Regions from separate parts of the Homo sapiens genome. Here region 1 is linked to region 2. Evidence: fine-mapped expression QTL. A gene starts in region 2. The other region holds a variant in brackets. All regions are shown on one strand. Distances are between the middles of the regions. Region 1 overlaps SOX13 (SRY-box transcription factor 13). Region 2 holds the start of SOX13 (SRY-box transcription factor 13).

The links.
Region 1: its variant is fine-mapped to the expression of SOX13 in whole blood (TOPMed, PIP 0.94).

The regions. Positions count from the first base shown.
Region 1 is chr1:204,093,878-204,105,480 of GRCh38, reverse strand. The region is part of intron 1 of SOX13 (SRY-box transcription factor 13); the gene reads right to left. Among named protein-coding and RNA genes, the nearest start is that of SOX13, 27 kb to the right of the region's middle. The variant G/C (reference allele first, on the strand shown) is at 6,527.
Region 2 is chr1:204,068,352-204,079,954 of GRCh38, reverse strand. It overlaps SOX13 (SRY-box transcription factor 13), which reads right to left and starts at 6,840. Exons shown (of 14, transcript NM_005686.3): 1 at 6,244-6,840. RefSeq lists enhancers at 598-1,526, 1,527-2,455, 4,083-4,774, 5,469-6,161, 10,787-11,288.

The sequences.
Region 1 (11,603 bases), 26 kb before region 2:
TGAGCCAAGATTGCACTGCTGCACTCCAGCCTGGGTGACTGAGGGAGACTCTGTCTCAAAAAAAAAAGAGATTATACAGAGTCAGAGGCCTTCAGCCAGCTGGGGCGCTAAGCGGCATCTCTGCTCTGCCCTCCCTTCCTTCTCAGGAACCCACCTCACAATCCCTCTTCCATTCTTCTTCCTCTGTGGTCTTATCTCACCCAAGTGAGCATCCTTAAGAAGTGAAGACCTCTAAGGAGAGGGCTCCAGCCATCTTCGCCCTTGACATGCAGAGCCTTGAGTCTCAGCTTGTGCCTACCAGGCCCCGAGGCCCCCAAATCCAGCACCTGAGACAAGGTATAGAGAGGCACCCGCCTCCATGGAGGGACAGTGGCTCAAAGCATGGCGCTTATATGACAAAGCCCGCTGCAGGTGCCGATCCTCTTCCTCTCTCCTCCCCACAACCAGCCCTGTCACGGCCCCTCTGAACCCCACCAACCCACAGGCGCACACAAACCTAGCCCCTTTCTGCCCAAAACAAATCACCAGCCACTTCCTCTTCTAACCAGTCAACAACTGACCCTGTTGGATTGGAATCAAAGGAGTTTTTACTGTCAGTCCTTCCTCCCTCCACAACGACAGCCTTCCCCCACCCTACAAAAAATATCTAGATGAAGATAAAGATAGAGATAAATTCCAGTCATCGTAGCATGACGGGTGACTCAGACCCTGGGGTACAGGAAGCCTGAACAGACAGGCAGACCCTCTGAGAGGGCCAATGGCTACACTTCCCCGCTGGGCACACACTAATCCCCCTCCACTGCTGGCTCCCACTCCCAAGCTTGCTCTGAGTGGGTGGTGCCAAGGGGCATCACCAGGGAAAGAGATCCATGCAGCAGGGGTGGGGCAGGGCTTGAGTCCCAGGGGAATGCCACTTCCTCTGAAAGCCCCCAGAGAGCTGAGAACCTCAGGCTGCCCTAAACAATAGGCCAAGGCGTGGGTGCCCAGAACAGTGCCCCGGTGCCACATCCTGCCATTCTTCTCACAGACCACACCCTGCCACCCTTCCTGGCTACACCCGATCCTATCTCTAATGTTTACTCAGAGCTGGGAGCTGGACTGGCTGCAGGCTTGGGACAAAGCTTTCCTGCGAGTCCCTCTCACCCTTTCCAGCCTCTGTGAGCCCTGGGGGGTATCAGATCCAGGGCACGGCCGGTCTGGTCTAGCCCAGCTCAGGGGGGCCACAGCCAACACTCCCTCGGCTGTTTCCAGGCTGGTCAGGGTGGCATTCACCTGGTAGAGTGGCCAACATCAGACAGAGGCTGGGTCAACTCCCAAGCATGGGAGAAGAGGCACTTCCCCACAGCACCTCAGGTACAGAATCACAGTCCAGCCTGAGCTTCTGTGGCTGCCGGGACTCAGCTGACCCTGGCCCAAGGGCACAAAGGAAAACAGTGGCCAGGGAGAGACTGTAGCTGTGATGTTCCCACCTGGTCCTCAGGCCTCAGAGGCACCTGAGTCTTCTCCCAACCCAGTGAGTGGGTCGAGAAAGAGACAGATGGGACTGCTTGAAAGCGCCATTGAGGCTCCCAGTGTGATGTGTGCCTCCAGAAGGTCCCAAACCGAGAAGAGGTCAACAGTGTCTCTAGGAGGCCCTTCTCTGGAGGCCTTCCTGCCTCTAGAACCCAAGCCTGTCTCCAGGTTCTCCTGCACCCCAACAGTGCTAGAAGGCAGGGGTAGGCCTCATCCTTGTTTCCCAATGGCAAGGCCAAGCCTGTGTCCTGGACAGGTGAGCACATCTGGCTTCCTGCAGGGACAGTGCCCAGCCTAGGGCTGGGAGATGCAGAAATTGTGCAGCTGAGGCTGACTGGCCATGTCAAAGGCCCCTTGGGGGATAGCCCTGAATACTGACCAAAGGAATGGGAGGCAAAAAGCAAGCATGCAATGCTACAGCACTTACTTGGCTGCAAGCACTAAGTGAAAGGCTCTTCATTCACATTCCTGCTTAATCCTCACAAGAACACTACAAAGACTAAGGCTCGGGGGCTAGAACGTCCTACTGAGGGCCCAGCAGAAGTAGCATTTGAACTCAGGCCTCGCTGATGTCTAAATCCACATCCTTTCATTTATCAGCTGATGCCCTGGCCACTCTCCTCGGTGCAAAATAACAGGCTCTGGTCCAGCAGAGATAGAATGGCCACTGTCTTCACCTCTTACAGGATTGCAGTTGTTTCTGACTTGAGTCATAGCCAAGGAAAACTTAGTCAAAAGAAACCCAGGCAGCTCTGGCAAGTTGGGGGAAAGACTTCACCTCTCAAAACCCCCATTTCTTCATGTGTAAAATAGAGATTCCAAGAACTATTTTGTGAGTAAGAGATAAGGTATAATTACAGAATCTGGTACAGAATATATGTTCAGGGAAGGAGGTAAGGAGAAAGAGCCCTAAAGCAGGAAGGAGTCCCTCTCCCTCCCTGCCCCCAGGGCAAGGGGGAGAAGGACTCACACCCTATTCTCCTCCCCAGCCAGCCCAGCTCTTCCGGAGGCAGGTGGGTGGGTGTGATGACCCAGCATTGCTGGGAGGCATCCTGGTGTGGCTAATGGAAAAAGGACTTTGTCACATGGACCTGTGTCTGAAGACTGGCTCTATTATATACCACTAGATGTGTGGCCATGGGGAAGTTTCAGTTTCTCTATCTCTAAAATGGGAACAAATAACACCTACCCCATAGAGATAGAGAAGACTGAATATGATGGTGTTTGTGAAAATCAAAAAAATGTTTGCTCCCTGACCCACCGCCACCCCCTTCCCCCACATGGTCAAACAAGCAGAAGACATGCACCTGCAGAACACCAGGGCCCGCCACCCTCTTCCTCCTCCATCTGCTCCATGTAGGTCTCCCTCCCTAGCCTAGGTTATCAGTTTTCTGAATGCCCTGTTGATGTCCCCAACCACCCTGGAAGCCCCAGCAGGTGCCCCACAGTGCAAACAGGCGGAAAGGCTACAAATCTGCCAAGGAAGCCCCACATTCGCAGCGCCACCGCTTATCTGGCCAAGCCACGGTGCCTTCCCTTCCCCGGCTGATGACACAAAAGCTCTGCAGAACTCATGAGCTCCCTCATTTCCTCTGGAGCCCACAAGGGTGAAGTGCTATATCATTAACCCTTGCGTTCTCCTGCCAACCCCAGAGGGAGAGGAAGGTGGGGACCATAGGGATGACTACAGACAGCGGAAAGGACAAGCGCAACTAGTCTGCAAACAGCCATGTTTACCCGCCAGGCTGATGAAATCTCACCTTTGCCAAACACTCCTTCTCCCAGTACTGGGGTGGGCTGGGCATTATCGGCTTTTGCTTTGTGACAAGTCTAAGCCATGTAGACTAAGCCCTCATAGTACATGGTGAAATGAGGCTCTGGGAGACACGCAGCATTGGTTCAAACCCAGCATCCGTCTTAACTAGCCAACTAGTTTAACTCTCTCAGCCTCACCATGTTGCCCAGGCTGGTCCTGAACTCCTGGGCTCAAATGACCCTCCTGCCTTTATCTGTAACTGGGGCAAATAGTAATATATACTCACTAGTGGGGTTTCAAAGAGTAAACGAGATAACACAGGCAAAGCCCAGTGCCTGGCACACAGCCGTGATGAACAACTGTAATGGGCATTTTACCATTGTCATCTAGATTAGGAGGTGAAGGGTGGAAAATTGGGAAGCAGCTGGGCTCTAGGTAGCCCAGTGAATACTTGAGACTTAACCTCTTTACACCTCAGATTCATTGTCTGAAATGGGGGCTAACAATACCTACCTCTTATGCTTGCTAGAGAACTGATAAGTTATTATATAGAAAATACTTAGCCCAATGCCTGGCACAAAGCAGATTGGCACTTAGTATTGTGGTGGCTGAATGAAGGACTGTGTTTCCAGGAAACCTCTACCAGCCAGACCACTCAGCCCCAAACCAGTATGTTTCCAAGGCCTCCTGCCACTTTTTTTTTTTTTTAAATAAAGAGGGAATCTCGCTATGTTGCCCAGGCTGGTTTGAACAGCTGGGCTCACGTGATCCTCCTGTCTCAGCCTCCCAAAATGCTAGGATTATAGGTGTTAGCCACCGCGCCCAGCCATCTAAGGCCCTTCTTAAATGCATTTCAAATATCAGCCTCTACCCATCTGTGAGCCCACAGCCCACTCCCAAAGTGGGCACTTCCACACAGCATCCTGGGATCCCAAGGGCTCAGGAAAGGTTTCTCTCCCCTTCCCACCTCAGGCACCCAACTCATTGCAGAGGCAGGAGAAATGGGTCCACGATCCAGATGGGTAAGTGGTACAAGAAAGGAAGAGAAGTCAGTAAATTTCATTCACCCAGAAAGCCACCAGGCAGTGTTGACAGGAGCACAGCCTTGAATGCAAACAGTCAGCAAACAACTTTGGCCTCCTCCTCTCCTCCCTGGGATTGTCTCCCTAACACTCCAGAAAAAATATATACCTTGACAGAAGGTCTAGGGGCTCCCTAAGAGATTCAAGCATCCAGCTCCCAGCTTGGCCAGCCCTTGAGGAGGTGAGCAGCAGCTCTATGATCATGGCAGCCAAGGCTCTAGGCCAGACTGGCACACCGGCCTCCCGTTGGCACAGCCCGCTTAAGCCTAAGGTGTCCCCCATCCCAGGGGTTCTTGGTGGAATGACACTCATGCCTCATGTAAGCCTAATCACCACCAGCTCCCCTAACACAGGCTCGCTCATCGGACACCCCAGTTTAGCAGCTCTTCCTCAGGCAGCATTCATTCTTCCAGTGAACAACGCGTTCCGTTCTTTTTCTCTCCAAAGGCTGCGTTTCCTCTCCCATTATCTACCCTATCGTCAGCCAAGCCCGCCACTAAAGCAAGTTTTCTTTTTCGATTTTGTTATTTCATGGTCCTCTTTATTTATGGGTGGCTGTTTGTTTTTCCTGGCTTTGGCGCCTTTTCAATAAGGGCAGGGAAGGAAGGGGAGAAGCAGCTTAATCTACTATAATGCTCATCAAACAATCCCCAAAGCAGCCAGCTTTCACCCCAATCTGCCCAGCACCCCGCTTTCCATCACCAGCACCCTTTGGAAACTGAGGCAGGACCACATCAACCAAGACTTGGCAAAGGGGTAAGATGAAATACAACCCAGGAAGGGATCCTGACACGTGGAACCCACAATACTAATAATAGTAATGAATAATGGTGACATTCAAGACTATTTAGCAAGGGAGTCATGGGCACTGACCAATCCACTGAGGCTCTTGGGACAATCAGATGAATTGGCAGTTGCCAGCCACAAACAACTGGCTGAGTCACACTAGTATGTGGTGAAAGACCCCAATTATGGCTAACTTTACTTTTTAGAGATGGGGTCTCACTCTGTCACCCAGGCTGGAGTACAGTGGCACAATCACAGCTCACTACAGCCTCTCAACCTCCCAGCCTCAAGCAATCCTCCCACCTCAGCCTCACAAGTAGCTGGAACTACAGGTGCATGCCACCATGCCCAGCTAATTCATTTTTTATAGTGACAGGGTCTTGCTATGTTGCCCAGACTGGTCTTGAACTCCTGGCCTCAAGCTATCCTCCTGCCTTGGCCTCCCAAAATGCTGAGGTTATAGGCATAAGCCACCATGCCCAGCCTATGGCTAACGTTTATTGAGCATTTACTATGTGCCAAGCACTGTTCGAATCACTTTTACTTATATTAATTCATTTAATCTTCATAATAATCATCTGAAGTAGATCATATTATCATCTCCACTTTACAGATGAAAAACCTGAGATGCCGACTGGGCGCAGTGGCACACACTTGTAATCCCAGCACTTTGGGAGGCCGAAGTGGGAGGACTGCTTGAGCCCAGGAGTTCAAGACCAGCCTGGGCAACATGATGAAACTCCATCTCAACAAAAAATACAAAAATTTGCCAGGTGTGGTGAGGCATGCCTGTAGCCCAAGCTACTCGGGAGGATGGCTTGAGCACAGGAGGTTGGGGCTGCAGTGAGCCATGATCATGCCACTGCACTTCAGCCTGAGCTACAGAGACCCTGTCTCAAAAAAAAAAAAAAAAAAAAAAAGCCAGAAAAAGACACTGAGACACCAACATGATTTGAGCCCAGGCAGTCTAGCATCAGAATCCACCTCTCAGTCAGACCATAGGAATCAACTACTTACATGCTAAGCATAATCTATAAGGATTTAGCCTTTTAATTCCTTCATTAGTCCTGTGAAATAGCTACTATGAGGACACAGAGGCCTAAGGAGGCTAAGCCATTGCCCAAGGTCATAGCCAGTGAGTAGTGACCAAGAAACTGAACCCAGAGACTGGCTAATGAGTCTCTTCTTTTAAGTGTTGGATTATACTGGCTTCTCTTCTACTAGTCAGAGGTCCCAAGAGCCATGGAAGTTTATCTCCTGGAAACCCCACTGTCCCACCTCTGCTGGGCCAGTGCTGCTCCCACAATGGAAGTCAAGGGAACCAGGCCCTTGGCCCTGGTACGGATGATGCAAGGGAAGTAATAGTCAACCTGGGGCAGGAAAACCCCTG[G/C]TTTCACAGGCTACAAGCTTCGCTCACTCCTGCCAGCTATGCCAAGGGACCAGGTGAACATGGGTGAAGAGCTCAATGGAGCCTGCCTGCGCCACTTGCAGAGACAAGGTGACTCAAGGCCAGAGTCCTACCCACGGTATCTTCCCCATGAATGAGGCTTCTCATGAACAAAGGCAGCATTCTGGAGGGCTCCAGGCTGCCCAGACCCTGACTCCCCTTACATTCATCACCCCTCTGTGTTCTGGCCAGTCCTCCCCACCACCTAACCCCACACCTCCCTGTTAGCTTCGCATTCATTCCTGAACTTTCAATAGCATCAAGCAGAGCTGAGTGTTCAGTAGACCCTGGCAACACATATGCCTAATGAATAGTCGTAGTCACTCTTATTTTATCAGTTTTTTCCTAAATATAAAAGGAGTGTGTGCTTACTGTAGAAAATCAGCAACAACAACAACAACAACAACAAAATTTTTTTTTTTTTTGAGTCTCGCTCTGTCACCCAGGCTGGAGTGCAGTGGCACCATCTCAGCTCACTACAACTTCTCTGCCTCCCCGGTTCAAGCAATTCTCCTGCCTCAGCCTCCCGAGTAGCTGGGATTACAGGCATGCGCCTCCACGCCCGGCTAATTTTGTATTTTTAGTAGAGATGGGGTTTCTCCATGTTGGTCAGGCTAGTTTCGAACTCCTGACCTCAGGTGATCTGCCCGCCTTGGCCTCCCAAGGTGCTGGGATTACAGGCATGAGCCACCGTGTTCAGCCAATCTGCAAAATTTTAAATAACATAAAGAAAACAGGTTGGGCGATGGTGACTCACATCTGTAATCCCAGCACTTTGGAAGGTCGAGGTGGGTGGATTGCTTGAGTTCAGGAGTTTGAGATCAGCCTAGGCAACATGGTGAAATCCCATCTCCACAAAAAATATGAAAAAATTAGCCAGGTGTGGTGGCACACACCTGTAGTCCCAGCTACTAAGGAGGCTGAGATGAGAGGATCACTTGAGGTTGAGGCTGCAGTGAGCCATGATCACACCACTGCACTCCAGCCTGGGCAACAGAGCAACACCCTATCTCAAAAAATAAATTTAAATTAAAATTTAAAAATAAGAAAACAATTTTAAAAATCACCCATTTCACATCCATCCAGGAGGTGGCCATTGACAACAATTTGGCCTATTTCTATCAAATCTTTTTTTCTGAAGGTGGTTTTGTTTTTCATTCATAAGCAAGTTTTTTTTTCTTTTCTTTTCTTTTTTTTTTTTTTTGAGACGGAGTTTCGCTTTTGTTGCATTCAGGCTGGAATGCAATGGCGCAATCTCGGCTCACTGCAACCTCTACCTCCCGGGTTCAAGTGATTCTCCTGCCTCAGCCTCCCGAGTAGCTGGGATTACAGGCATGCGCCACCACGCCCAGCTAATTTTGTATTTTTAGTAGAGACAGGGTTTCTCCATGTTGGTCAGGCTGGTCTCAAACTCCCGACCTCAGGTGATCCACCCACCTCGGCCTCCCAAAGTGCTGGGATTACAGGAATAAGCCACTGAGCCCGGCCTCATAAGCAAGTTTTTATATTTATTTTCTCCCACTTAATAGTACACATCAGCAGTTTTCATGTTACCAAAAACTGGATATTAAAAATTATTCATAAAGCCATATTTAATGGCTGCACATCTTCCACTCTATGGCTGCATCATGATTTCCTTTATCCCCATGCCCCGTGGTTGAAATGATTCAACTCTTCCAATTTCACATTACTGAAACCTCCTCCTGACCCCTAGGGACATCCACCCTCCCAACACCTCTGCCAGGTCACAGCCACTCTGCTGCTGTGACAGGAGGGAAGGCAGGGCCCCTAACAGTCAGTGGACCTCGCCCCTGCCCTCTCTTGATGGACTGGAGACAAAGGGGTTTAGGACAGAGAATGGAAGCCAGGATGGGGCTAGAAAGCCTGGGCCCAAGGGGCTCTGCAATGCAGAGGCACGTATCAGTGTTTCTCAGGCCTTGACTTCCCCCTTAAAAGATAAAAAGCACAGTGGATTTTCACTTCATACCCAAGAGGATGGCTATTATCAAAAAAAGAAGGAGAAAGAAGAAGAAAAAGAGAAGAAAGAGGAGGAGGAGAATTGGCAAGGATGTAGAGAATTTCTGATGGGAATGTAAAATGAAAAGTGGTATAGCTGCTGTGAAAAACAGATAGAAGCCTGGGCAACATGGAAAAACCTCATCTCTACAGAAAATACAAAAATTAGCTGGGCATGGTGGCTCATGCATATAATCCCAGCACTTTGGGAGTCTGAGGTGGGTGGATCACAAGGTCAGGAGTTCGAGTCCAGCCTGGCCAACATGGTGAAACCCCATCTCTACTAAAAATACAAAAATTAGCCAGGTGTGGTGGCGGGTGCCTGTAAACCCAGCTACTTGGGAGACTGATGCATGAGAATTGCTTGAGCCCACGAGATGGAGGCTGCAGTGAGCCGACAACCCACCACTGTACTCTAACCTGGGCGACAGAGCAAGACTCTGTCTCAAAAATAAATAAATAAATAAATACAAAAATCAGCTGGGCATGGTGGCATACACTGTGGTCTCAGCTACTTGGGAGGCTGAGGTGGGAGGATCGCTTGAGCCCAGGAGGTTGATGCCGCAGTGAGCTGTGATCATGCCACTGTACTCCAGCCTGGGAGACAGAGTGAGACCCTGTCGCAAAAAAAAAAAAAAAAAACGAAAGAAAGAAAAAGAAAAGAAAAGAAAAATATGATGGCGGGTCCTCAAGAAATTAGATATAGAATTACCATATGATCCAGCAATTCCACTTCTGGGGATATACCCCCAAAACTCATAGCAATATTACTCACAACAACCAAAATGGGAAACAACTCAAGTGTCCATCAATGGATGAATGAATCAACAAAGTATGATATATACATGCAATGGAATATCATCAGCCCTAAGCTGGAAGGCAATCTTGACACATCTACGATGTAGACAAATATTGAAGACATTATGTTAACTGAAATAAGCCAGGCATAAAAGGTCAAATATTGTATGTGTCTACTTATGTGAGGTACTTAGAACAGCTAAATTCATAGAGACAGAAAGTAGAATAGAGTTACAGGGCTGGAGTGAGAGAGGAAGGGGACGCTATTGCTTAATGGGAACAGAGTTTCAGTTTGGGAAGATGAAAAAGTTCCATGGACAGATGGTGGTGATGGTTGCAAAACAATGTGAATGGACTTAATGCCTCTGAACTACACATTTACAAATTGTAAATTTTACATTATGTCTACTTTAATCCAATTTTTTAAAAGATGGAGAGAACAAAAAACTGCTAATAAGTTATGCTTTCAGGGCATCTTTAATCTGCAGATGGACAGAGGCGAGACCATAAACATAGCCTCACTGACTGGTGAGGGGACAACATGGGGGCAGCAGGGCTGGAGAGCGGCTGCCTTGGGAGAGCCTGTGTTCACAAGGCCATAATTAACATCCCTAATTGAAGTGTCTAGAAGCAGCAAGACCCAGACAGTGCCAGACCTGCCCGACCAACTAGAAGGCCTTCCCTCACTGCCTCTAGAAACAATTAAAGGCTTCCATGCGCAACCCAGAGACAAGGTGTATTTAGGATTTCTCAGCAGGGAGTTCAAGGGACCCAGACGACAAGAAGATGGGGATAGAGAAAGAGATTTAGTCTTCCCCTAAAATCAGTTCCTCGACTTTCCTGGAAATCCTTTCCCCTCGGATGTCCATCTTAGAGTTGGCGGTTTCAAGGCAACTGAACTGACGCCTGTTTACAGAACAGCTCTGCCCCTGCCTTGCCGTACAACCCTGGGAGACTTACTGTACGGCTCAGGGCCGTGGAAGGAGGTTTACTCCTGATGCCCTCCCCGCCTGGAGAGGACACAGCACAATGGTCCAGACTGAAGCTCTAAACCAGAAGGTCTGCGCTCATAGAAGGGAGTGGCAGGACGGGGGCCACTTGGGAAGAGGAAGAGGAACTGGGCAGCCTTCCCAGTTTGCAGGGACTCATCCATTTGAGGTCACAGATGCTGGCTTCTGTGGGCCACCCAAGCCATCCTTTTCCTTTTCAATGAATGAATGACAGGCAAGCCCCAAAATCCCACTAGCCCTAAGGTTCATTTGATGCTTCCATTTTCTGATTTGGTGCTTTACTGGCAAAAATTATCCCAGTTCCCACTTAACCAACAACACATCACAGGGTTTGCTGTGTCTACAGGAGCTGCCCGTGCTCCACGGTGTGATTAAGAGTGCAGGAAGAGCTGATGGCAGCCCGCCCCAAGGGAGCCTTGGGGATTTTCTATGGAGACTGAAAAAGCCACCGGCATCTTTGTTCATCTCTGTCCAAAGAGGGAGACAGATGAGCATCCCTTCCTGGCCCTCTCTCTGCCCGCATTGGGCCATTAGAGCTCCCTGCAGTGCTTCCCTTCCCCCACTGCCTGCAGTCCTGACCCGAGGGAAGGGGGTCAACAATGGGGTCACTGAAGGTGCCCAGCTCAAAACCAGCTCTGTTGCTTAGGAAGAATTTAACCCTGTCCCTGCTGGCTCATGACTCTCCACCTTCACAGATCTACCTGTATGGAGGGGAAAAAATAATTGCAGAGAGGGTCTAGAAGGGCCCAGGTGAGAGGTCTGCGTGTGCGGTGGAAAGAGCAGAGGGCTCGAGTTTGAGCGTCAACTCTGCCACAAACTCAATGTACAATCTTGGGCTCATCTAAGTTCTCTGAGTCTCATCGTTCCCATCCGTAAACTGGCAGTCAAAATACATGTACCAGATCCCTAGGAGACTCGGCACAGTTATTTTCTAAATGTCAACACCCTTTACACACTTGATGGTTTATAAAGCCCCATACATGTGTAAGGGATTTTGATGCCTTTAACTCACTATGGGGCCTGGGACAAACCACTCAACCTTTCAGGTCTCAGTTTTTCCATTTGCACATGGAGTGAATTATTACTTCTTCTCTGAGAGACAAAAGTATAGGCAGGGGAGGGCTCCCAGGCCTTTGATGCAGTGGAAATAATAGTGTTGCTAAGCTTCTGATTTCCATGTTCGAGTTGTAGCCCAG
Region 2 (11,603 bases):
AGATACCAGGCCACACACACAGCACATCCTGCAGCTTTGGTTTGCCCATGGATGACCTTAGGAGGAGGCAGGGGAAACCTCAGCCACTTCCTCCTCACCTCACAGCCTCTAGGAGGTCTGACCACTGCTGCTGTTCCATCTGAGACCATGGAGGTCCTCCCTGACAGCACCACAATGTGCTCTTGCCAGGAGTGAGCAGGGAGGCAGGCCTCAGGGCATTCCTAAAGCAGGAAGGACCCCCTGCCACCCACTAAGGCGGGAGAGCCACCTGGAGTAGCAGGTGGTAGCTACAAGGTTCTATGCTGTGAGGCCAGGCTCGGTGGTTCTCACCTGTAATCCCAGCACTTTGGGAGGCTGAGGTGGGCGGATCACCTGAGGTCGGGGGTTCGAGACCAGCCATGGCCAACATGGTGAAACCCCAACTCTCCTAAAAATACAAAAATTAGCCGGGCGTGGTGGCGCATGCCTGTAATCCCAGCTACTCAGGAGGCTGAGGCAGGAGAATTGTTTGAATCCAGAAGGCGGAGGTTGCAGTGAGCCAAGATTGCACCACTGCACTCAGGCCTGGGCGACAGAGCAAGACTCTGTCTCAAAAAAAAAAAAAAAAAAAATGTTCTATGCTGTGGACCACACCACAGGCTGGACAGAAATCTTTTTTTTGTTTGTTTGTTTTTTGAGACGGAGTCTTGCTCCGTCACCCAGGCTGGAGTGCAGTGGCTCGATCTTGGCCCCGGGTTCATGCCATTCTCCTGCCTCAACCTCCCCAGCAGCTGGGACTACAGGCACACGCCTCCACGCCCGGCTAATTTTTTGTATTTCTAGTAGAGACAGGGTTTCACCGTCTTAGCCAGGATGGTCTCGATCTCCTGACCTCGTGATCCGCCCGCCTTGGCCTCCCAAACTGCTGGGATTACAGGCGTGAGCCACCGTGCCCGGCCCAGAAATCTTTTCCTAGGGGAGCTGCAAAGGCTTCATCACCATGGGGCTTTAAGCTGGGTCCATGGCATACAGCAAGTGCTCTTAGGAGGGAACTACCATATCTCTGCTCCTCAGAGAAAGTATTTGCATTTTTTAAAAAGCAGTCACTCTTTATCAGAGAAGCTGACAGAGGTCGGAGGAACCCTGCTGAGCTGGCCTATAGCAATCTCTGAATCAAGTCTTCCCAAGAACTAAGGAAGGGCCAGTCAAAAGGGGGGTAGTCACCGAGGCAAAGACCACCATCTAGAGCATGCCTTCCTGCTTCGGGGCAGGGAGCTGACAGGAGAGGGAAAGCAATCCTCCATGGGTCTAGTTCCCCATCTGGTAAAAGGCACTGTGATGGCCTCCCTGGCTGACACATCCGGGTTCCAGAAAGGGGACTAGCAAAGGGTGAGGACCGCAACGAGTTCAGGCAGGAGCGAGCCCTCTTAAGCAAACACTGGGCACAAAAATAACTCCCATTCAAAGCACGATTTACTGTGTGCCTGGCCGGCCCTCCCAGCACAGAGCCCTTTTCAAACACTCAGCTTCACCCCTGAATGTGGCTGGGGGAGGGGGCTCAGGAGCACAGCTGCATTTGAATTCCACTTTTTCCGGTGGTGTCAGCTTCCTGGAGACTTACCCAGGGGAGCTGCCCAATAAGGACCGATCTCAAAGCACCCCCAGAGAGGAGAAAATCTTTGTAGAATCCAGTGTCAGCCTCTCAAGGGCAAGGACACCTAGATCCCTTGGTGGAATAGGCCTAGCTCAACCGACACTTGTCTGGCAACAGAAAACCCCAGAGCCCTTACCATTCATGGAGCACTGCTGCCGCAGACATCATCAGCCATTAGCCTCCCAACAGTTCTAAGAGGAAGGTATTGGCCGGGGGCAGTGGCTCATGCCTGTAATCCCAGCACTTTGAGAGGCCGAGGAGGGCGGGATAATTTGAGGTCAGGAGTTCGAGACCAGCCAAACCAACACGGTGAAACGCCGTCTCTACTAAAAATACAAAAAAATTAGCCAGGTGTGGTGGCACACACCTGTAGTCCCAGTTACTCGGGAGGCTGAGGCAGGAGAATTGCTTGAACTCAGGAGGTGGAGGTTGCAGTGAGCCAAGATCACACCACTGCACTCCAGTCTGGGCGACAGAGTAAGAGTCTATCTCAAAACAAACAAACAAACAAGCAAACAAACAAACAAAAGTAATTCACGACCATTGTAGAAAAGTGAAAAAACAAATGGAAGATAAAGAAAGAAATTAAAACCATCCATACGTCCAGTATCCAGAGCTAACCTCTGTAAATATTCTGATGCATCCTCCCAGATTCTGTCCTTGCGTGTGTGCATGATAGCCATGTGTATACTTACAATTCTCTGTACAAGATTAAGATTGTACTCTGTAGTTTTATATCCTGATTTTTTCACTTCTTATGTAATTTTCCAGGTTATAAACTGTTCTTTGTTAACCACGTTTTTGGGAGGTTTTGGGGGATGGTTTGTATACCCACCTGGTACTAAATTCAGAAAGGACAAAAGGGTCTACAGCAAAAACAATCTTTTCTCCATCCCATCCCTCAGCCACCATTTCCCTCCCTTGGGGCAACTATGATTACCGTTTCTTGTGTCCCAAATAATCTTTTAAAATCATAGAGCAGATCATGTCACTCCCCCACTTAAAACTCTCTGATGGATGCATCGCCTGCAATAAAATCCAGGCTTCTAACCAGTATTACCAGGCTTTGGCTCTCCTCTGATTTCTCCAGTCTCTCCTCTCCAGCCACATAGCTGTTGCCCCTGTTCTGGCCTCAGGGGCTTTCATTTGCTATTCCCTCTACCTGCAATCCCCTGTCTCCAGGTCTTTATGCAGCTGGCTCCTCAGCCTTCAAGGCCTGGGCTGAGCTATCCTCTCCCCCAGGGTGGCCTTCACTGGCCTCCCAATCTAGGGCCACCACTGCCTGACCTACATATGTTTTCTATCACATCACCCTGTGGTATTTCTTTCCCATTGCATGTCATAATCTGATAGTCTTGGTTACTTAAAAGTATTTACTGTCTGTCTCCCCACAATAGAAAGAAGCCTCTTTGAAGGCAGGCACGCTGCCTGTCTTGTTCTCCCCTGTTATCCCACTGCGTAGCACAGGCCCTGGCACATAGCAGGTGGTCAACAATTTCTGTTGAAGGAATGAATGGGGTGACTGCAGTGCCAGTTGTCATAATGACTAAAAACTGCCAATTGCAGGATCTCCAACATGAAGAAGCAACCTTCTGGCCATCCTCCCCCATGCCTGGGGTGGAGGTTGGAGGGTCTGAGAAAGGAGGACAGGAGCCTGTTGTCCAAGGCAGTGTGGCTGGGCAGCAGCACCCTGTTCTTCCTCCTGGTTGCTCAGCTCGCCCCTTACCTGTGCTATGCATTTGCAGAGTCCTGAATCAGACAAGGAACTTGTGACAAACCCAAATTCCTAGAAAATCCTCCAACTGCAAGTGGAAAGTTGGAGGTGACACTTTTGCCCCTCACCCCAAATCCCACATCCAGTCTACCCAAGCAGCTGTGCTATTCCAGGTTCCCAAGTGAGCCCAGCAGCAGGAGACACAGACACTACCCAGGGAGCAGGGCTCCTCCTGGGACAGTCCCAGCCCATTCCACCTGACTCTTCCCCTGGGCCCCAGACACCTGACAGGCTCTTTGCTCTGGAAATTCACCCTGCCCCAGAGACACAAATGCACATCCAATCCTGATCCAGCAGCCCAGGCTGAGGACGCTCAAGGGACACCCTTTTGGAGACAATTCCTTCCTGGGACCTGATTTCCATGGAGAGAACACTGCAGTTGAGCCAAGATTGATTTTTAAGAATGAGGAAAGGAGGGAATGAAATGCTTTCACAAAAGTTGTGAAGGGAGGGAGAAAGGAAGGAAACAAGAAAAAGAAAAAAGACTCGAGAAGATGGCACTAGACAAGGAGTAAGAAGGATACGTTTGATCTGAGGGGCTGGAATCAGGCAAGGGTGGGAGAGAGTACAAGATCTCCTCCTCTCCAGAAGTGGGCAATGTTATAATTGATTAGTTGAGCACAATCACCAAGTGCTCTTCTGGGCTCTGTACAAGGTCAGTTAAGTAATAATGGCAATAATAGCTCATATTTACCTAGCACTTATTATGTGCCAGGCACTGTTCTCAGTTTCACTTTATTAAGTCTTTTAATCCTCAAGACAACCCCATGAAGCGTTCATATTAACCCTATTTTATGGCTGAGGAAACTGAGGCACAGAGGTTAAGTTAAATTGCCCAGAGTCACACCGCCAGTGGCATCCGGGATCTAACTCCAGCTCCAGGACTCTTAACCACTAGGCTATATTTGGCCCTTAATGATCCAGAGGTAGGTGGGTCCCTACCCTCCTGGAGATCATGCCTTCCAAACCAGTATCCCCCAAACGATCACGACATGCCAGTTTCAAAGTTGGGTGCATAACTCTGCCCATTTCGCATGCGGGGAAGTCCAAACCCACGCTGCTCATCGATGGGGAACTGGAATCCAAATGTGCTGAATCCCAGCATCTTGTGAAGCGCTTTCTAATGAAGCACAGTGGAAACAGGGGTCAGCCTCAGGCCCTGACTCGCAACTGCGCCGAGGCGCAGATTACGGAGTCAGGGAGCCGGGGAGCCAGGGAGCGGGGGAGAGGGAGAGCGGGAGGTAGCGGGCTGGCGCCGCGTCGGACGAGTCCGAAAGCACAACCGCGGTAGGCAGGGAGACAGCCCCACGCCCAGGGCAGAGAGCAGAGGGCAGAGAGCGGCCTGGCTCGACGGAGAGCGCCGCCCGGCTGGAACCGAGCTTGCCTCCCTGGACTCCAAAACGAGCAGAGTTATGCACCCATCTTTGAAACCGGCATGTCGTGATCCTTTGGGGGATACTGGTTTGGAAGGCATGAACTCCGGGAGGTAGAGACCCACCTACTTGGACTGCTGAGAGCCAAGTACAGCCTAGTGGTCAAGAGCCAGCAGCATCGTCTCTGGCCGTCTTTGGCCAGACCCCTTCACCAGCGCCAGCGCCAGCGCCAGCGCCGAGGCGTCCTGCCCGGAAATTCCCAGAGAGTCAAAGCAAACTTCCCAGGAAAACTCTTCGGCTTCCTCCAAGCCTCTGTCACCGAGGCGGCTGCCAAGAGCGCCAGCGGAGTCTTTGCAGCTGCCGCGGGCCCTCCAGGGCGGGAGCCGCCGCTCCAGCGCTCGGGGTCCTCCCGGAAAGGTCCAGGGCTGAAGTTCAAAATTCACTTCCCGCCCAGGCCCGGCTCACCGCCCCGCCCGGTACTGTCCGGCAACCCCCACGTCTCTTGTCCTCTCCAGCTCCAGTTAAGTCCTGGAGCGCCTCCAGCCTGAAGACCCATGCGGGCAGCTGAGCGAATCCCGCGGGCGATCCCTGCGCGCCTGGGGACGGGAAGCAGCCAGAGCCGGCGCACACACACAACCTTGTGTGTGCGTGTGTGTTTACGTACGGAACGCGCGGGGTGGGAAAACAATGGCGAGCCGCTGGGAACTGAACGACTACCCGCTCCGCATCTCCCTACCCCTAGGCGCGATCAGCGTTTGCAGCGGAATCGGGATGAAAAGGCTCACCTACGATATCCCAGGGCGGGAGGTGGGGGTAGCAAGAAGCAGCCTGCGGTGGGGGTGGGGGTGGGACAGGAGCAGCCGGAGCAGAAAACAAACAGGATGCCGCGCTGGTCTGGTCCGCTGGGGAACGACCCTGAAACCGTGGCAAGGGGAGCGCGTCTGTCCCCCAGCACCCCACGCAACCATGGTGGAGGAGCTCTGCGCCTCGTCGCAGGCACCTGAGCCCCACGCAGGACGCGCGCAGGTCGCTTCGGCTTCCCGCTGAGAAATCCTTAAACTAGGCGCATAGTCGGGCTGATGAGAAAGACCTAGTCCTCTGCGGTCGGCGAGGAGCGGGTTGGGGGTGCACCCTAAGCTCGACCCGCGTGGTGAACGCGCGCGCGCGCGCGCGTACACACACACACACACACACACACAAACACACACACAGCCACGCACTGCCTTAGAGGCTGCCATCCCTCTCCACAAGGACCCAAGTCGGCCAGGGAGGAGCCGCCACTGCCCAGCGTTGTTGGGGGTAGGTGAGGGTCCGTCTCTCCTCGAAAAACTTTGCACAGGGTGGAAACTCGCAGGGAAGAGAGCCGGTGGGTGCCCAGAAACGTAGGGGCGCAAGTGTCAAACTTCAGAGAGCTGGGGAAATGGGCGCGACGGCGCGATCATGGCGGGGAGGGGTGCACTTACTACTCAGCCAGGCGCCGGGCTCGGGGCTCGGGGCTCGCGGCTCCGCGCTCCTGCTCCTCCTCCGTGCGGTCCTCGCGGCTGGCAGCCTAGGCTTCCCGCTCACATGCCCCCGCGACGCGGCGGGCGGGCCGGGTTGGGGAGGCTGGGCTGGGAGGGGGCACGCCCCCCGCCGTCGGCCGGGGAGTCGCTGCGGACCCACGGCCACCCTGGGTCCGCGCCCCACGGGGCCCGCCGTCCCGGGCGGCGAGCTTGGTTCCGGCCGGGCGGCGCCCTCTCCGCCGAGCCAGGCCGCTCTCTGCCCTCTGCCCTCTGCCCTGGGCTTGCGGCCGTCTCCCTGCCTTCCGCGGTCCTGCTCTGCGACTCGTCGGACGCGCAGCCGGCCCGCCCTCCCTGCTCTTCGGCTCTCACGCTCTCCGGCTCCAACCTCAGCGCCTCGGCTCGATTCCGAGTCAGGGCCTACGAGGCTGACCGCTGAGCTCTGGGCTCAGACCTGGGCTCGCCGGTTCTGGGCCCGGGTTCCAGGACCCGTGCTCACACAGTTCAGTTCCAAGCCGGGACTGGAGAAGGGCGCTCGCGGCTCGCTGCTGCGAGGCGACTGGACAGCCTAGAGGAGAAAGAGGGAGGGAGACCGAGAGCGCGCAGGGGGAGGAGGGAGGGAGGGTGGGGACTTGCAGAAGAAGGGAGGGACAGAGAGTTTCCTCCTCCTCCCTGCAGCCGGGTCCATCCAGGCATCAACAGCTGGAAACCTCTGTTGGAAAGGGGAAAGCTAAGGTTTACGGGCGGCGGGGAAGGGTGGGGGTGGAGTGAGGGGGTGTAGAGAAGAGAAGAAAGAAGGATTCTGCCCGCTCCCACTGCCCAGGTATGAGGGTCGCTACAGAGAATCTTCACTCCTTAAAGCAAGACCTAAGAAGTTATTGGTCCAGCTCCAAGCCTCCCAACCCCTCCAAACAGATAGCCTGGACTCGGGTTTTTTAAAAACCCCATTTCTCCGGACTTCCCTTAAGAACCTGATCTCTGCCGGGCGCGGTGGCTCACGCCTGTAATCCCAGCACTTTGGGAGGCCGACGGGGGCGGATCACGAGGTCAGGAGATGGAGACAATCCTGGCTAACACGGTGAAACCCCGTCTCTACTAAAAATACAAAAAATTAGCCGGGCGTGGTGGCGCGCCTGTAACCCCCTACTCGGGAGGCTGAGGCAGGAGAATCGCTTGAACCCGGGAGTGGGAGGTTGCAGTGGGCCGAGATCGCGCCATTGCACTCACTCCTGCCTGGGCGACAGGGCGAGACTCCGTCTCAAAAAAAACAAAACCTGATCTCACCTGTAGCTAGACGGATTCCTGATATCTCCAACCACTCCCTAATCCTGTCATTTGCAGCCTCTCAAATAAATCTTATTTTCTCCTGTCCCATTATATGGGAGGGTGGGGGAGAATGGAGAGTTGGTTTCCTTTCATTCAACGTATTTATCAAATGTCTACATATGACCGGGCGCAGTGGCTCACGCCTGTAATCCCAGCACTTTGGGAGGCCAAGGCAGCAGATCACCTGAGGTTGGGAGTTCGAGACCAGCCTGGCCAACATGGTGAAAACCCCTCTCTACTAAAAATACAAAAATTAGCCGGGTGTGGTGGTGCATGCCTGTAATTCCAACTACTCAAGAGGCTGAGGCAGAAGAATTGCTTGAACCCAGGAGGCAGAGGTTGCAGTGAGTGGAGATCGCACCACTGCACTCTAGCCTGGGTGACAGAGTAAGACTCTGTCTCAAAAAAAAAAAAAAAAAAAAGTCTACCTATGCCTGGCTTACCGGGGTGCTGGGGACACGAAGACAAATGAGACGGTGTCCTGCCCTTTCTGGATTCTGATTTTGTAAAGGAATGGGTGAATATACCATTGCAGTGAAGTGGAGAGGGCTAAGATAGGGCAGGCAAATGGGCACAGGGCCACCAAAGACACTGGGATATGGGGACTGGAACTTCTTGGGGGAGGTGGCATCTGAAATGGGTCTTGGAAGGACCTGTGGGTGTAGGGCAGATTAAAGGAGTGACAATCATGGACCTACTAATAAGTCTATGCCCACAGTGTGGGTGGCCAGCATGTGTTCAAAGGTGATGGTCAGCAAGGCTCTGAAGGCCTTCTAAGGGCTCATCCTTGCCCACTGCTTTGCCTGGCTAACTCCTTTTATTCATCTTTTAGGTCTCAGCCTAGACATCAACTTTCCCTGAAGCCTTTCTTGATGGCCATATCTGGGCCAGGTGCCCCATCTGTGGGCTCTGGAAAAACCCCATTTGTAAATAATATGGTAACCATTCATTTGTCTGTCTCCGCCCTGGACTGTAAGCTCCACAAGGGCAGGGATGTATCTCTCCAGTGTGCCTAGCCAGAGATTGGGAAAGAGCAGGCCCTTCATAAATACTTATTGATCAATACTTGTTGATGGAAGGAAATGGGGAGCCACTGAAGGATTCTAAGCAAGGTCTCAGATGGCATCAATCTAGCTGGAGGTAGGAAGGAGGCCAGTGACCAGACAATGGCAGTGGCCAGGGTAAAAATGATGCAGGCCTGAGCTAAGCTGGGAGTAGGGGGAATGGAAAGGAGAAAACAGGTGGGTGTAAGAGAGTGGGAGAAGCCAACATTAAAGGCTTGATGTTTGGATAACTATGGATGAAGCCATCCTAGAAATCATGAAAGGGTTACCCAAATTGCCGGGCGCGGTGGCTCGCGCCTGTAATCCCAGCACTTTGGGAGTCTGAGGCAGGAGGATCACCTGAGGTCGGGAGTTTGGGACCAGCCTGACCAACATGGAGAAACCCCATCTCTACTAAAAATACAAAATTAGCCGGGCGTGGTGGCTCATGCCTGTAATCCCAGCTAATCAGGAGGCTGAGGCAGGAGAATTGCTTGAACCCCGGGAGGCGGAGGTTGTGGTGAGCTGAGATCATGCCACTGCACTCCAGCCTGGGCAACAAGAGGGAAACTCTGTCTAAAAAAAAAAAAAAAAAAAAGGGTACCCAAGTGCCACCAAGACTTTCCTCCTCCCAGACAACATGCCTGTGTTTTCCATATATCTGGTTGTTTTTCTCTGGCCCCTGATCATCTTCAGGGGGGCAACTTGATTGTGGGTACCTCCCTGCAGCTGTCCTTAGCAACAGCAGATTAAGAGAGGAAGAGCAAAGATCAGCCCTTCCACTCACTGCCACCAAATTAAGATATAAAGTGTCTCCCTACTGGGTCTTAGGCACAATACTGTTTTCCTATATGGTATCTATTTGTACCTTATCCCAGTTCTGTGATGTTGGTGTCATTATCCCCATTTTATCTTATTTTTTAATTTAATTTAATTCCATCTCTTTGCAAGTCCCTGAGTACCTGGAATCCCATTTTAGAGATAAGAAAAATGAAGCTCCAATTAGTGAGACAGGAAGCTATCTGACTGAAGATTCTAGATTTTCTCTACTACTGCACCATTTCCCAGGAACAACTATCAAATTTACATGATGTAACCCAGTCAGCCACTCCTTGAAACACTCACTTCATGAGTCCACACTTTCTTGAGTCCTCCCACCTCACTGGCTGCTCTTTCCCAGCCACCCTTTTTTATGTTCCCTCCTCCATCCTGGTCTCCAGGTGGGCATTCCCTGTGGGCTCTCTCCTACACCCTATTTTCCTCCTACCACATCTCCCTAGGTAAAATTTTGTCCTTTTCCATAGCTTTAAGTACCAACTATGTGGTGATGATTCTCCCAATTATTTAATATCCAAGACTATTATCCAACCACACACTTGATGTTTCTACCCCAGGGCCTCACAGACATTGTAACCGTAATGGGTCCATTGCCTGAGGGCCTGCAAGTCAATACACCAACACCGAGGGTTGCAACAGAAAAAGAATTTTAAATGCAAGGCTGAACAAGGAGAGGAGAGAAAACCTCAAATCTGCTTCTCCGAAGAGTTGGGGGCTAGGGATTTTAAGGGGTTTGGAGTGGGCCGAGGTGTGGGGATCACTGTGGATGTCCCGTGACGCAGAGTCACGGGACAGGGAGATGAAGAAACTGCATTCTCATGCTGATTACGCTCCTCTGTGAGGGTCTTCAAACTGGTGGCATCAGCCATTCTGCTGGAACTCAAGAGCTAAAAACATCTTAAGCAAATCTTAAACAAAAGCCTTATGATTCCAACGTCAGTGATCCTATCTATAGGAACAATGGGGATGCAAATCGATTCTTCAACAAAAGCCTTATGATTCTAACATCAGAAATCCTATCTATAGGAAAAATGGGGATGCAAATGGTCAGTATCTGGTTCTATGGAACTTTTAGCAACAAGGAAGTGCGCCAAAGTGCAACCTAATTAATGCTTTTTCTTTCTTTCTTTCTTTTTTGAGACACGGTCTTGCTGTCACCCAGGCTGGAGTGCAGTGGTGAAGTCACGGCTCACTGCAGCCTCAACCTCCTGGGCTCAAGTGATCCTTCCACCTCAGCCTCCCAAGTAGCTGGGACTACATACACAGGCATGAGCCACCCTGCCTGGCTAATTGTTTTTCATTTTGTGTAGAGACAAGATCTTGCTATGTTGCCCAGGCTAATCTCAAACTCCTGGGCTCAAGTGATCCTCTCGCCTCGGCCTCCCAAAGTGCTGGGATTACAGGTGTGAGCCACCGCACTTGCCTATTAAGGTTAAATTATAACAGTATTTCCGCCCAGAACCTAGCATGTAATACTTGCTAACCCTGTGAGGATGGCTTCCACATCCTAACCCTAACATTGAACCTTTAACCATCATCCCCAACCCAGTACCATCTTCTTTCCCATCCAGTAAATGGTACTACCACCTACCTAATGGCTCAAGTCAAAAACCTAGCCATCATCTGTGATTGTTTCTCGCTCATCTAATCAATTTAGTGAGTCACTGGCCTATCTCCAAAAATATATCCCAATCCATCCATTCCTGTCTTTACCACCCCACCCTAGTCCAGGCCACAATTACCTACCACTCAGCCAGACTACAACGGCCTCACCTGCGGTGACATCATTTCACTGAGGCTGCCTACATCTGCATGACTTTAATATTTGTTCCAGAAATTTCTTCCCCAGGAAGATAAGACTGTAAACTGGTAAATAACTTCATTATTTCCTTCAGGAACTTCCTGAAAATCAATTTATCTGAACAATAGACTGCTCAAACAGCCCCCTTCTCGGGACAATAGTTTGCTTAACTGGGCAAACCAGTAGCTTATCAAACAATTGTTTATTCTTCAAGACCCTCCCTTCACCATGTCCTCCAATCCTAAACTGTTATAAATTTTGCCCAGTCCCAATCAGATCCCCATATTGAAAGATCTGCCTTGAACTAGACTTCAAAC